Linked DNA regions of Homo sapiens. The protein of the gene in region 2 interacts with the protein of the main gene of each other region in a pairwise test. Each region holds a gene or a part of one and is shown on either strand. Other genes may lie near its edges.

Region 1 (8,037 bases), on a different chromosome or scaffold from region 2:
AAGGAGCAGATTCCAAATTTGGACCTGTATTATATCCACAGAGTAACATGAGTAACATGAGCGTGAAGACCCCAACATCACCGGTCACCAACAAGACCCTAGAGAATCCCCACTACACATCACAGAAGAGTGTCATTGTAAATGGTTCTGCTGTTGTGAAGTGGTCAGCTGGGAAAAAAGGAACAAGTGGGGGCGTGGGGAGGTGACTGGCTGTGGCCTTTGTACCCTGGACACGAACTAGCAGCAGAAATAAATCCTGGTGCTTCCCCATCCATTTGGTTCTGTTTACCAAGCTCTTATTCTTTGCAAAGCAACCATATCTGGGGAAAGGAGGCAGGAAGAAAAAGGAATTCAAAGAAGTCTCACAAGCCCATGTGAGGTAGGCTCTGGGTGACAAGCTTGGGTACCATGGCTCTTTTTGTTGTAAATTGCCCATAGAATCTGAACTCTCTCTCTTTGGCTCAAACCCTGAGCCATGTCCCTTAAAATTAAACCCTTTCTCCCAAAGAAAAAGATGGAGATTCACATGGGGCAATAATAACACATCCCCACGGATCATCCTCAGGGGACCAGTAAAAGAAATGATGGTAAAAGGAAAGGTGATCACCTCAAGGAATTTTCCCTTGAGAAATTATCACCATGCTGAAGATCTCTGGTATAGCTGTCAACAGAGAAAAGCATCTGTCAAGCTGGCCAGGTGTTGACTAGCAACGCCAACAATACCCTATGCTTGTACCATTCAAGTCTCCCGCAGTCCAAGGCACAGGCACAGGCTTTCCTGTGCTTCACACCACGGGGCCAGGGGCAGTTACTCCATCTTTAGATCTTTAGTCCATGTAGCTCATGGAGCAATGTAATGGACAAAAAAGTTTTAAACAATGATGTCCTGGCATAGAAATTATGTAAATCACCAGGGATTTTATTCCTGTTCCCAGTGTATATTGGACTAAAATGTTTTCATTTAACATCTTTTGCTTTTTCTAATTTCATAACATTTACATCTATCAATTTTCCATTGATTTTGAAGTAGTTGAATGGGTTGAAATTGCAGCTTCAGTCACAGGCAAACTGGCACAGATTTGTTTTCAGACCAGCCACGTTCCTCCTCAGTGTTCTGGACAGAGGCCTCCTTGTCTGTTCTTCCAAGAGTCCCTATTTCTGCTGATGGAACTGCCTTCCTTGGAATTACACAGGCTCTTCACCTTGGTGTCTCCATGGACACCTCCCCTTTGTCTCTCCTTGGCCTCCTCCTTTACTCTTACTCCAAATCTAATCAGTGCCAAATCTGGAACTCTTCTACCCGCCCAGTGGTGCATTCCTTCCTCTCTGGTCCAGCCATGGCCACCAATTCTGGCCTCCCCAGCACCTGCCTCATTTCATGCTGGCCTCCCTGTCTCAAGTCTTGTTCCCTCCTTAGAATGTTTCCTAGACATAGCTGACAAATCAGTCTTCCAGAAAAAGTGATCATGCGATTTCCTTGTTCAATACCATTGAGGTCTCTCTCTCTCTCTCTCTGTCTCTCTCTCTCTTTTCTATTTTATTTTATTTTTCTGGTTCTTAGGAAGTGTGCAGAGGACTCTCCCTTAATGTGGAGAGAGAAAGTCCATACTCCTCAGTCTGTCCTTTAAAGCCTGGTCACATCCAAACAACTCAGTGTTAAATCCCACTGCTGCCTCTTATATCCCCAGTGCACCAACTACTCACTGACCTCTGCACTTGCTTAGAGCAAGTCCACTGTTACTTACGCCTGCAATGCCCCTCTGCTACTGGCTCTGTATATTCAAACATTCCCGTTTTCAAGGTTCAGCCGAAATGTCCAATCTCCAGAAGCCTTCCCTGGCCGCCTTAGATGAAAGGGATCTTTCATTCCTAATTCTATGATGAGAGACACTTTTCTTTGCTAGGCATTGCTGTTCCTCCCCCGACCCTCCCTATCTCCAACACATGACCTCCCTCTGCTGGGAATTTCCTGGGGGCCGCCCTCTGTGACTCTCCCTGCATCTTCCACAGGGACCCAGCAACCTGCCGTGCCCACAGCAGCCTCTGCACAACACCCAAAAGTTTGTACTAGCTTAGATGTTCACGTTTCTCTTCTCCCACACCCTGCTCATCAGGTAGGGAACTTTCCCAGTGAAAACGGAACTTCCCTACTACAATACCAAAACAAGTCAATGTTGCCACTTGATCAAGAACTCTTCCATTTTTGAAATATTTCCTAATGAGCTCAGTTGTCACAGACTGCACCCTGGGGACAGGTCAGACCAGAAAGCAGAGGATGTCACCTGGGCAGGACCAGGGCTGCTCCACGCTGGTGACCACAGGCTGGGTGTTTTGTGCCCCCGGAGGGTTAGGACACACAGCAGCCAGTCGCAAAGGGCGCAAAGGACCAGCGCTTAGTGGGCGGGGCGGGCAGGGGAGAGTCCCGGGAGTTGTACCCTGTTGAATCCCAGCTCCAAACTTTTCCCTCCGTCAGCGCGGAGCCCTCCACCAGCCAGGACTGGCTGACGCCGTGATGCCACAAAAGCCGGGACCGGAAGAGAAAAATGCGTGGGATGGGGAAGGCAAAGGCGGTTATTTTCAGAACTTCGGGGGCTCCCGGGCCTGCCCTTCGGGTTCCCGAGGATGCGAGGCCAGCGTCCGGCCGCCCGCGGGTCCGGACCGGCGCCTGCCCGGGACCGGATGGGCAGCGATTGGGATGCAGATGCCGCTCTGGTGCTGATGCTGCGGCTGCCGCGTAGTGACAGCCGCTCCACCACCCACCGCGCCGAGCTGCGGCTCCGCGCCCCCGGGGGCGCCCGGCGCGCCTGGTCCGCTCCGGCCCCGGGCAAGGCCTGCGGGCTGCGGCGGGCGGCGGGGCCCAGGCCGCTACTCACCCGGAGGGTTGACCGCCGCCGGGGTTGCCATCTTGCTCGGAGAGGATAGGCGCCCGCTTGGCAGGGGCGCGGGAGGGGCGGCGCGGAGCCCGGCGCTCAGCCCCGGGGACCCGGTCAGGCCCAGGCGCCGCCGCCGCCACACAAAGGACGGCGCGGGCGGGCGGCGCTCCCTCCGCTCTCCCCGCCGCCGCGGCCGCTCGCCGTCCCCGCCTTTCTCTCCTCCTCCTCCCCCTCCTCGGCCTCCTCCTCCCGGTTCAGCCTTTGTCGCGCGGCGGGGGGCGCCCGGCCCGCGGCTCCCCGGTCAGAGCGGTAGCACCGCGAGACTTGGGGCTGCGGACGGCGGGACCCCCAAGTTGGGCGCCGGCGACTGGCGGGGGCAGAGGGCCGGGCGCTCCCTCGGGCTCGCGCAGGTGCTCGGGCCTGGCCGGGCTGGGACCGCAGGCGCCTCTCCCGCGCTCGCCTAGCCCGGGCTGCCCCCGCACGCCCACGCCCCAGGTGTCCGGGCGCGCTTTACCCAGGGGCGCCGTGCCCAGGCCAGGAGGCCAGGGCGGAGCGGGTGAGGGAGAAGCCCATTTAGATTCAGAGGGAAGCCGGTCCTGGGAGACGGCCGCGAGGAACAAAGGCGCCCCAGTGCTGCCCACTTAGCATGCCAGAGCCGCGCTGCTCGGCTCCCAGGCCGGGGACACGGCCCGGTGTTAAGCGGAGGGTGCCCGACCGCGGGAATTCCTAAGGCCACGCGCACCTCCAAGGCCACCGCCGCACACAGCTTCGGAGTGCACAGTGCACACGCCCAGGCACAGGCAGCCGGCCCGAGAAATTGTGAATGTCTTGGCTTTGAGTAAGGCGCTCATCTCTACCCTCCTTCCATAATGACTGCCGTTGATTATTACTTGAGGGCGCTGCAAGGGCCTTATTTACACCACCAAGTTGAGAATTTAAAAAGATTTTTTTTTTTAAATAGGTTTATCTGCGTATCCTGGCGAAGTTTGGATGCAGAGAACTTGGAGCTGTTGTTTTCTACCAGACACTAGGATCCCTGAGAGAGGTAATGGCCCCTAGGAAGGACACGTCACCATCGGGGTCCCCTGTAAAGGTTAAATGGAAGAATAAAGACATCCCAGGTGAACGCTGAGAAGGGCAAGTTGGTCCCTAAACGCAGATAATGTTTGCAGAGACATCAAACTGTCTTAAATCCTTCCAAGGAAGCATTTTCTGGAGGGCAGAAAATTTGGGATGTATGTTCAAATAAGCATTTTCTTCGGGGAGTATTTGTCACTACTAATCTAATAGTCTATCAGTTCTACAAATGTTGAATGTCTGCTGTGTGCCAGGCACAAAGCCAGGTGTTGGGCCTACCATGGAAAGGAAGAAACAGGAGCTCTGTTCTTCTGGTTTGGGGGGTAGAGTGGGGAAGAGTGAAACAAAGTATCTGCACTCAAGAAGCACACAGCTCCCTTGGGGGCTTAGGGCAGAAGCCCTGAAATTGGCATCTCCAGCCTGTAGTCACTAATGAATGAATGAGGGCAGAGAGGAGGTGGAGTGATCAGGGAAAATGAAAATTAGGCTTTGAAGACATGAGTAGGACAGGTGGAAAAAGAAGACATTTCAAGTAAAAAATAAAGCAGGTGTGCACCCAGCCACAAGATAGGCCAGGCCCAGACAGAGAAACCAGGGTATCAGCTATGGCCCGCTCTTGTGCCCCGTATCAAAGTTGACTGTTCCTGATTCCAACATCAAGCCAAATGAGAATTCAGCCTCTCTTCTACATACCCCGAAAAGCAACACACTCAAAATACCAACTTAATTAATGTATAACGTATACTGGACTGAAGATTTCTTAAGGAAAGTAAAAGAGGAGGCTCTCTTCACTCACTCCACATCAAAAAAGGTAAAACTCCATCTCAGATATTTCTGCTACCCAGAGTCCCTTCTGGATCCTTCTCCCCACAGGCAGTTCAATCTCTGGTGGCCCATAAATAGCCCATAAATAGCACTTGGCATCACTGCCCCCTATCCCACGAGGCTCTTTTATTCTCCAACTTTCCACACCCCTTAGAAGGAAGCAAGTTCCTCTCCTTGGTGTTTATGTATCAGTTTAGCATTTCAGCCAGGACCCATGGCTCATTTTGTCTCCAAATACAGTTCTAATATCATCCCTAAAAAATAAAATATGAGTGAACATGACTCTTACGCACACACACATTTAACCATACAAATTTGTTGACAAGTTTTACTTTCTTACTCTGCTGTTGTGTTCTGCCCATTTTTCTAAATGTTACTCGGCTGATATCTTTAAAACTGGATCTTGCTCAAGCTTCCTACTTCTTGCACTGGTCCATTGCAATAAAAGACAGGCGACACGTGGACAACTGCTAGACACTTCCCAAGTCTGGAGTCGGCCGTGCTGTGGTTTTTGGTACGTAATAAATACGTTTAGATTTTCACAAAGGAGACATTTCATCTTCTCCCCCAGTCAGTGTATTTCAGAGGTAGAAAGGACCTTCGACATCATCCAATTCTGCCCCTGGAGTTTGCAGATAAGGAAACTGAGGCTCAGGGTAGCCAACGTCATGCAGCTTAATAGCCAGACAAGACTTAGAACTGGGCTACGCACAATACTGGGATTTGGTGGCTGGAGTTGGGGAGCGGTTAGGGTGTAGGGGAAGAAATAGAGAAATGGGCAACTCGCCTTCTCTCTCGTCTCTCAGTATTAAATAGGTTAAATGCTCAGAAACACTGATTGTGGATGAAAGCCCCCCACTTAAGTAAACAATCTGAAATGGAGTGGTTAGTCATTGTTGAATACTGAGTGGCATTTACACAACACAGTGGTCTTGCGCTAATTATGAGAGTCAGTAGACTGTGACCAGTTAACACAGGCTCAGGAATTCCACTCAACCTTTAAACAACCCAGAACTCTTTGAAATTCCAGAGGAGGCTGTTGAATTTGAAGCTGAGATTTGCATTTTTGAAAAGATTAATGCAGATCCACCGGGCCCATAGCACACGATTCTGAGCACAGCGCTCCTAGAAATGACCAGAGTTGACCAGCTGCTGTGCTAATGTGTACCAGGGTCCACAGCCTTTCTTTCTTTCTTCTTTTTTTTTTTTTTTAACTTGATGGGAGAAAGCAGCCACCTGAGTTCTGCTTCATATCCCTTTAAGTCCTAATACTCGAGACAAAGGATTTCCATTGTATAATATATAATGATCCAAGGCAATTTTATCTTTTTTTTTTTTTTGAGACGGAGTTTCACTCTTGTTGCCCAGGCTGGAGTGCAATGGTGCAATCCTGGCTCCCCACAACCTCTGCCTCCCAGGTTCAAGCAATTCTCCTTCCTCAGCCTCCTGAGTAGCTGGATTACAGACATGCACCACCATATCCAGCTAATTTTGTATTTTTAGTAGAGACGGGGTTTCTCCATGTTGGTCAGGCTGGTCTCAAACTCCTGACCTCAGGTGATCCATCTGCCTTGGCCTCCCAAAGTGCTGGGATTACAGGCGTGAGCCACTGCACCCGGTTTTTTGTTTATTTGTTTTTGTTTTTTGTTTTGTTTTTTTTTTTTTAGATGGAGTCTCGCTTTGTCACCAGGCTAGAGTGCAATGGAGTGATCTCAGCTCACTGCAACCTCCAACTCCCTGGTTCAACCAATTCTCCTGCCTCAGCCTCCCAAGTAGCTGGGATTACAGGTGCACCCCCCACCAAACACTCCCAGCTAATTTTTGTATTTTTAGTAGAGATGGGATTTCACCATGTTGGCCAGGATGGTCTTGATCTTCTGACCTCGTGATCCGCCCACCTCGGCCTCCCAAAATGCTGGGATTACAGGCGTGAGCCACCATGCCTGGCTAATTTTATGTTCTTTTAACTTCACTTTAAGATATGAAGAAACCAGGAATGAACGCATGGGCTTCTGCAGAAGGAGAGGCATGGTAGGGCTGCCATGGATATAACCACAGGCTTTCTCTCCATTTATATGTCTCCTCTCAACCCTTCCTTCCTCCTCCATTCTTTCTAACTTCTCTCTCTCTCTTTGCTGGAGATAAAGGCTCATGGGTCTGTGTTATCCCCACTGCTACCTCCTTATCTTTATTTCTACACAGGTGACAACTGCCCACGGATTGTCTGTCCAGGCACTACCCCCAGCCCCCACCCCTGCCTTCTTCTCTATCAAGTCTCTCCTTTACACCAAGAATCATGGACTTATAACAGATCAAATGTGGATGAGATGTTAGTTTTATACAAAAAGGCATAAGCACCAGCCTTTGAAGCGAAAGTGTGGTGTAGGTTTTTGCTCTGTCACTTCATGAAACTTCTCTAAGTCTCACTTTCCTCACCTGGAAAATGGGGATGATGTTACCTACTGTGCTGAGTTTTGGTGAAGATGACATTGAAGGAAGTAATGTGTGTGCTGTATACACTTTAGAGACTTTAAAATGTATTGTGATAGTATTGCAGAGGGAAGAAGAAAAGTATGGCAAGTCTCTGTCCCACAGAGATAGGAAGGGGAAGCTTGTCGTGCTTTACCTTCATGGAGAGTGGAGAGAAGGAAGGAAGGAGGGTGGGAGGGGAAACAGGCAGTCAGACCCAGGTGCTCTAGTTTCCGTGGAAGGTATATCAAGGCAGCTGATGGAATAGCCAAAAGCAGAGGGGTTTCTGGCCACCACCCATGTGGGAGTCTTGGGGAAGATAACACACAGGGTGGTTCTGCAGGGATCGAAGGATGTAGCTGCAAAGCTGGGCTTTATATGGCACTCCTGGCTCCTCGTGGCTCTGTGAAGTATGCTAGGTGTCCCACAGGTGAGGAGACATGAAGGCATTGAGGGTCTAAATTAACAGATATCTGGGTGAGGACTAAAAGGCTATAGTAGGCAAGATTGAATGAACAAGGCCCCAAACCAAGGCCACAGATATCAGCTCTCAGTGTGAGTCTTCCTAAAGATACCTTAATTTTCACCAGCCAAATGACCATCCCAGCCCCTCAGAATGGAGGCGGGCAAGGCTCTAAGGCTCCCTTTTCTCCCACCACTCCCTCCTTGACCACCTAGACACCACCTTGAAGGGGAGCTGGAAGTGAAAGGGAAAGGACCTAAGAATGACTGTGCATTCACCTGGGTGATGCTGAGCTTTCTAAGAGATGGTGTAAAACAAAGAAATACTATG
Region 2 (7,136 bases):
CTTCTCTGATAAAGGCTGGGGGGTGATGCCCCTCCCCCAGTTTCCCAATAAAGCTATGCAAGACAGGAGCAAGGGATCTCACGGCCTGTTTTTGCTACAAAAACCCTTTTTCGGAAAAAATAATAAAGAAAGGAATCAGCCAATCCCTCCTCGATGCCATCACCTCTTCTCGGTGATTTTTCGGGGAAGGAGTGGGTGGGTTGCTATGGCAACAGATGCGAGCTCGTCTCAGTAAAGAAGGGACCTTGATATTTTTTTCTCTCTCTCATTCTCTCAGTTGTGTGTGTGTGCGTGCATGTGTATGTGCGCCTGTGTGTGTGTGCATGCGCGCTACACATGCCTGTGCCCACACCAGGAATTTTTTTTTTTTAGAACTAAAGAAAGCCCTTCTCTTCTCTCAGCTCTCCAAATATGGAGTGATGGAAAACCACTTACTCCTGCAGGCCAGGGAGAATTCAGGATGATTCAAGAGAAAAGGGAGAGGTCATGTGGGGCTCCTTTCCTCCATGTTTTTACTAGAGATTGCATGCAACAAGAGAGCTTTGCAAATGGTTAGGGGGCCTTTGGAAAGAGGAGAAGATGTTAGGTGGAAAGAGGTGAGCAAGATATAGATGGTGCAGGAACTCAACGGGTGACCTCAGAGAGGGCAACAGAAGCTATATTGAGTCTGGGGACGCATGTACATCCCACCACACCATCAGATGCTGAAAGACCCAGAGCAGACTCAGATATGGACACAAACACAGACACTGACAGAAAGGCATATGGAAAATTGTAGACATAAATACACACAGGCACAAACATAGAACTGCACAGAACATAGGAAGTTGGAGACAAAAAAAAAAGACAAGCATAGATGCAGGCATAGGTAAACATAGATATACAGGGGTACAGACTCGCAGCTACAAAGACACATGCAAACAGATAGAGATGTAGACATCCAACCACCTCCAGACAGGTTTGGAGGCAGACACACAGGACACACAAACACAGTCTCAGTCAAATGAACACACACACACACAAACACACAGACACACACACAGAGTCTGGCTCTTTTCCTTCAATTGCCCAAGCATCCTTGAGCAGTAGTGCATAGCTGAGGATGCTGCACGCTTGCCCAGTAGGTTTGGCTGAGAGGCTTGCTCTCCCATTCCTTCTACACGCTCACCCCAAAGCCCCTCTCCCAATTCACTCCCTTGCCCACTTTCCCACAGCCAGCAGGCTCTGATGCCTCCCCCATCTCAGGCTTCTAATTCTTAGCTTGTTCTGCTGCTGCCTGCCACTTGGGGGAGAGAGTGGGGTGACTCAGCCAGGCCAGGATGACTCACACTGCCAGTATTTTTAGCAGCGGCCAGGAGCTCTCTAGTGTGCCAGCCGCCCCCCTCCTCCTGCTTGCTATTTCGGAACCGTCACTGGTGATATAAATAGCTCCTCTCCCACGGCCTGAAGCTGCTGCCAAGCTATTTTTGGTTCTGCACAGTTAAAAATAGCTTCACGGAGGTGGGAGGCAAGGGGAGTGGGAGCTGGCCTAGGGAGAGGAGACATTGGGGCACACAGAGCTTCTCAACTTGAATCAGAGTGGGCGAACTAGGATGAGCCCTTCTCTACCCCCTCCCTTGTCCCTTTCTAGACCCTTCTTCCCTTCCAAAGTGTTTCTTCCCATTCCATTCTCCTGGAAAAAGCCAGGGGCTCTTCCCCTGAGCCCAGTTCTCCTCCCTTGCTTACTTCACCCTTAGAGCCCAGAAATCTTGGCCCCCTGCAAACCCTCCATATTCATTCACAGAGAATAAGGGGACAGTCAAAGAGTAGGCTCACTCTGAGGCCTGTGGGTACCCAAGCCCTACGTCGATGTCCCCGGCAAACCGTAGCATGACTTCCATGGTGACTCTTTCAGCACCACGGACAGCGGTCGGCGCAGTATTCCTTCACTGCAGATTCGCTCAGATTGCTGGAGGCCATGACACCCAGCCAGTAGACTCCTCTTATTGTGGAGGGGGACACTCAGAATGCCTCACAGGCAGCTTTAGCATCAGTGAATGAAGAACACAGGAACAACCCCCCTGGAATTTCATACGGAAGGGGATCCAAAGATCAAGGGATTGTTCAAATGGAAGATTGAGAGAGGGGTGGGTAGGTACATTAGAGGTCAGATTGAGAAGAAAGAAGCAACACAGACCCATGTCCAGGAGGAATCATCTCTCTGTCATCCAGGTCAATGGGGTTAGAGACAGTGGCAGACAGATAAGCGGACATCGTTCCCTCCACCTCAGCTGTGACACTGACCACAGGATGGCCCCAACCTCTGCCAAAATGCATAAGACACCAGAATAGGGTCTCCACACCTTGTACACCTCTTCTAAGACATACTTCTCCTCAGCCGCCTCTCCTCCCACTCTACCTCTCTTACTACCACCCCTTTCCATGAGGAGCGGAGAGTTCCCTGGCCCCAAATTGTCCTTTTTGATGTCAAAGTTCATCTCCATGCTTCCTGTGTGACTGGGACTTCCCAGTCCCACCCTCCAATTTTTAAGTGGCCTCATTTCCAGCCACTTAAGTGATTCCATGCGCACACAGCTACTCCATCAAACGAGATTTCAGATAAGAACATTCCCTAGCCCACTTGCTTCTTGCATTATTGAATCCCAGGATAAGAACGGCACATCCTCGCCCCTGTAGAGAGCAATCATCTGTGGTGAAAAGAGAAAAAAAGCGGGTGTGTGGGGGGGTGGGGATAGGGCAAAGGTGACAGGATATGAAAAGGATAGAAAAGGATATGAAAGGACAGAAAAAGAAACGAAGGTGGAAAGTGGAGAGCTGAAGGTGGAGAGGCAGAGCCAGGAGCCTTAGAGGCGCAAATGTGGAGAGGGGTGGAGGGAACCTGGCAAAAATACAGGGTCCCTGGTAGGTGCAGGGGTCATGGAGGGTCCGGCGCTGCCCCTTCGCTTCTCAGCTGCTCCCCCATCTTGCCCGCCTAGGCAGGGCGGGGAGCCCTCCGGAGCGGTGCGGAGGCAGCCAGGCCCCGCCCGCCGCAGCCGCGGCAGCCGCCGGAGGATTCCTGTCCTAATATGGAGCTGGGATTCCCCCGGCCCCGCCCCCGCCCCCGGCCCGCGGGGAGACAGAGGCTGGCAGCAGGGCGGGGGGAAGCGCTCGCTTGGGGGCCGGCAACGGGGGGAAGGGATGCCTAAGTGCAGACCCAGGTCCTCGCCGTGCCCCCACGTCCCTGCCTCAGTTTCCCCTTCAGTAAGGTTAATTAGCTGAGAGGGAAACCACGAATCACTGCAGACTACAGCGCTGATGTTGGTTTCTATTCTTGGCTGTGGGAAAACAGGATCAACGCCAAATTCAGCTGGTCCCTTTCCCACCGGACTCCCTTTCCACCCATCCTCGGGACTTAGACCCCCATGAACACCCCCTGATAAGCCGCCAAGGCCCGATTTGGGAAGCGGGGGCGGGAATTTGTTCTCTAAAAATGGCCAAGGGAATCCCAGGTTAAATAGTCCCCAGAGAGGAACCCCAGCAGTGACCTGTCCCACGGAGGCCAAGGAAAGTCCTCCTTCCCTGCATGTGAACGTGACCTTGTCTGTCAAGTAACGAGGGGGATTTGTAGACAACCCTGTTCTTCCCCATTCCCTCAACTCCTCAGAAAAATTAGTGTCAGTGCCGGCCCCTCTCTGCCCTCTGCGGACTCCTGCCGCGGGCTTCAGGCCGCCCTAAACCTGGCCCTGTCGCTTCCCTCAACTGAACGCATTCAGACGCCAGGGTCCCCACACTCCATTCAAGCTTTCCTAACGCAGCGCCTTCCTCTCCGCTCAGCTCCCGCCAGGCTTGGCCCCCTCCGCAGCCTCCTGCTCCCCCCTCGCCCGCCTCCCTCCCTCTCTCATTCTACGTCATGAGATGACGTCGGAAGCCGGGCGGGAGGAGGAGCCCCCCTCCCCAGTCAGCGGCTCCCGCTGCAGCTTGCTTAGCCCAGCCTCCCGCTCTCCCGCCCCCCCGGCTCTAAAACGAGCCCCCCACGCCTGGCAGGAGCTATATAAGGCGGCGTGAGGCAGGCGAGGGGGGCAGCGCAGCCGAGCGGAGCCCAGGAGAGCAGAGAGCGAGCCTGAGCGAGAGACGGGGAAGCACGGAGGAGGAAGCCGCCGGTGCGTCGGGACGGGAGCGCAGGTGCTCGGGCACCCGAGCTGGAGCTCCGCAGCCGCCGGTCATGTACCGCTCCACCAAGGGCGCCTCCAAGGCGCGCCGGGACCAGATCAACGCCGAGATCCGGAACCTCAAGGAGCTGCTGCCGCTGGCCGAAGCGGACAAGGTCCGGCTGTCCTACCTGCACATCATGAGCCTCGCCTGCATCTACACTCGCAAGGGCGTCTTCTTCGCTGGTGGTGAGCATGCTGGGGCTACCGCAGATCCGAGCTGCCAGGCGCCGGAGACCCTGGAGCTGAGGGAACCCGCTGGGGCTGTCGCATGTCTAGGGCAGCGTGCTGGCGAGCTGGGGAGATTCGGGACTCGGGAGATTCGGGACTTTCTACTTTTCCTCCTGAGCTCCCTCCAGACCTCACCTTAGTTCTGAATGAGAGTTAGAGAGCCTGGACGGTGTCCCTAACACCAGATTATGAGAGGATAAGAGCCAGGACAGAGCGGCCTCGGTGCCCGCCAGTGCAGAAGCGCTCCGGGAGCCGGGGAGGGAAGCCCGGGAAGTTGCAGGGATGGAGCTGCCTGAGCCTAGGGGAACATAGCTACTGTCCGCGGTGCTGAAAGGGATCTCCTGTCGCCTTCGGGGCGCTGCCCATGGTGCTGACGGCTGCGCCGGCCGTGTATGGCTCTGTCCATGGTTCTGAACCCACAGTCGGCTTCGGAGCTCTGTCCGCGGTTCTGAAATTCAGAGCCGCTTTGGAGCTCTGTCCGCGGTTCTGAAATTAAGAGCCGAGAGGAGCCGACCCCGCTTTAGAAGTCGAGGGCTTGTGGGCTATGGAGATACAGCAACAGGTTCCCTGGCCAAGAGCTGCGGGCAGCGGGTCAACAGGTGTTTGCAGAGGCAGGTCCATGAGAAATTCCTCTGGATTCTCTGAAACTCAGACCATGCCTTCCTCACTTCTTCTCTGCCTCCCAGTCTTACTCCTGACGCACTACGTCTTCTCGCCCTACAGGCACTCCTCTGGCGGGCCCCACGGGGCTTCTCTCAGCTCAAGAGCTTGAGGACATCGTAGCGGCACTACCCGGCTTTCTGCTTGTGTTCACAGCCGAGGGGAAATTGCTCTACCTGTCTGAGAGTGTGAGCGAGCATCTGGGCCACTCCATGGTGAGTGCTAAGGGTCCTTTCAGCTGAGGCTGGGCATGGAGTGGGTGCCGTGAGCCTTCCACTCCTGAGGAACTGGGAATTACTATGGAGGGAGAGGTTATACCCTACAAGATACTGTAGATCAAAGATTGGCTCCTGCTGTTCTCCCTAATGGTCATCTCTTCTTTTCCTCCCTCCAGGTGGACCTGGTTGCCCAGGGTGACAGCATCTACGACATCATTGACCCAGCTGACCACCTCACTGTGCGCCAGCAACTCACCCTGCCCTCTGCCCTGGACACTGGTAAGGACTCCCTTCTCCCTTCCTCGGTCCAATTTCCCACCTGCTGCCCTTCTCCCCACCATCCACTGTCTCTCTCTCAGCCACTCACCCTCTTATCTGTTTTTCTCTTCATCTATCTAGATCGCCTCTTCCGCTGCCGCTTCAACACCTCCAAGTCCCTCAGGCGCCAGAGTGCAGGCAACAAACTCGTGCTTATTCGAGGCCGATTCCATGCTCACCCACCTGGAGCCTACTGGGCAGGAAATCCCGTGTTCACAGCTTTCTGTGCCCCTCTGGAGCCGAGACCCCGCCCAGGTCCTGGCCCTGGCCCTGGCCCTGCCTCGCTCTTCCTGGCCATGTTCCAGAGCCGCCATGCTAAAGACCTGGCTCTACTGGACATCTCCGAGAGGTAAGCCTGGAGTGTTCAGATTCCAAGAGAAAGGCAGGCCAGAGATGAAGGGACCCTAGATTCTGGAGTCAGGGGCAGGGAGGATGGGGTTTAGGGGGGCAGAGGATCTGGGAGGGAGTGAGATGCATGGGTATCAAGCAAGGAAAACAGAAAGCTGACCTCACCCTTTCCACCTTCCCAGTGTCCTAATCTACCTGGGCTTTGAGCGCAGTGAACTGCTTTGTAAATCATGGTATGGACTGCTGCACCCCGAGGACCTGGCCCACGCTTCTGCTCAACACTACCGCCTGTGTGAGTGTCCAGAGAGGCTGGGGACAAGATAGCAAGCTGGGAAAGGGCATGGGAGACCAGACAAAGAATGATCTGTAGTCAAGAGTGATGCTGGGGAGATAACAGAGGCCAACAGTTTCGGATGCTATAGGGTGAACATGAAGGTGAGGATTCAAGGCAATAATCAAATCAGAACTGGGGGACTCTGAGTGGTGAGGTCAAGGTAGAGAGCTGAGTGGTTCAGGTGAGGGTAGTCAGAAGAGAGGATGTCACGGCTATCTCAATTCAGTGGAGAGGTGACCAAGGGTGGGGAGTAGGTAGAATTGCCTGGTGGACATCCTAACTCTGCATCTTCTTTCTCCCCAGTGGCTGAGAGTGGAGATATTCAGGCAGAGATGGTGGTGAGGCTACAGGCCAAGACTGGAGGCTGGGCATGGATTTACTGCCTGTTATACTCAGAAGGTCCAGAGGGACCCATTACTGCCAATAACTACCCAATCAGGTAAGCCACAAGCCAGGGGACTAGGGGGCAGCTGAGGTCGTCATGGAGGAGACACAAATCAGGGAACTGCTCTGGATATGGACGTCGGACCCTTACCAGCTGCCTCTTCTCTCCTCTCCAGTGACATGGAAGCCTGGAGCCTCCGCCAGCAGTTGAACTCTGAAGACACCCAGGCAGCTTATGTCCTGGGCACTCCGACCATGCTGCCCTCATTCCCTGAAAACATTCTTTCCCAGGAAGAGTGCTCCAGCACTAACCCACTCTTCACCGCAGCACTGGGGGCTCCCAGAAGCACCAGCTTCCCCAGTGCTCCTGAACTGAGTGTTGTCTCTGCATCAGAAGAGCTTCCCCGACCCTCCAAAGAACTGGACTTCAGTTACCTGACATTCCCTTCTGGGCCT

What was found. The genes of interacting proteins can lie anywhere in the genome.
Region 1: the proteins of NPAS4 (region 2) and ARNT2 interact in a two-hybrid assay, tested with the Homo sapiens proteins (one study listed by BioGRID).

What each region holds. Positions count from the first base shown.
Region 1 is NC_000015.10:80,399,383-80,407,419, reverse strand, and holds the start of ARNT2 (aryl hydrocarbon receptor nuclear translocator 2), read right to left. Parts: upstream 3,039-8,037; 5' UTR 2,905-3,038; coding exon 2,874-2,904; intron 1-2,873. UniProt on the Homo sapiens protein: Transcription factor that plays a role in the development of the hypothalamo-pituitary axis, postnatal brain growth, and visual and renal function. Specifically recognizes the xenobiotic response element (XRE).
Region 2 is NC_000011.10:66,416,979-66,424,114, forward strand, and holds the start of NPAS4 (neuronal PAS domain-containing protein 4), read left to right. Parts: upstream 1-4,201; coding exon 4,202-4,376; intron 4,377-5,141; coding exon 5,142-5,293; intron 5,294-5,472; coding exon 5,473-5,575; intron 5,576-5,695; coding exon 5,696-5,963; intron 5,964-6,144; coding exon 6,145-6,254; intron 6,255-6,261; exon of another isoform or gene 6,262-6,397; intron 6,398-6,599; coding exon 6,600-6,735; exon of another isoform or gene 6,736-6,856; coding exon 6,857-7,136. UniProt on the Homo sapiens protein: Transcription factor expressed in neurons of the brain that regulates the excitatory-inhibitory balance within neural circuits and is required for contextual memory in the hippocampus. Plays a key role in the structural and functional plasticity of neurons.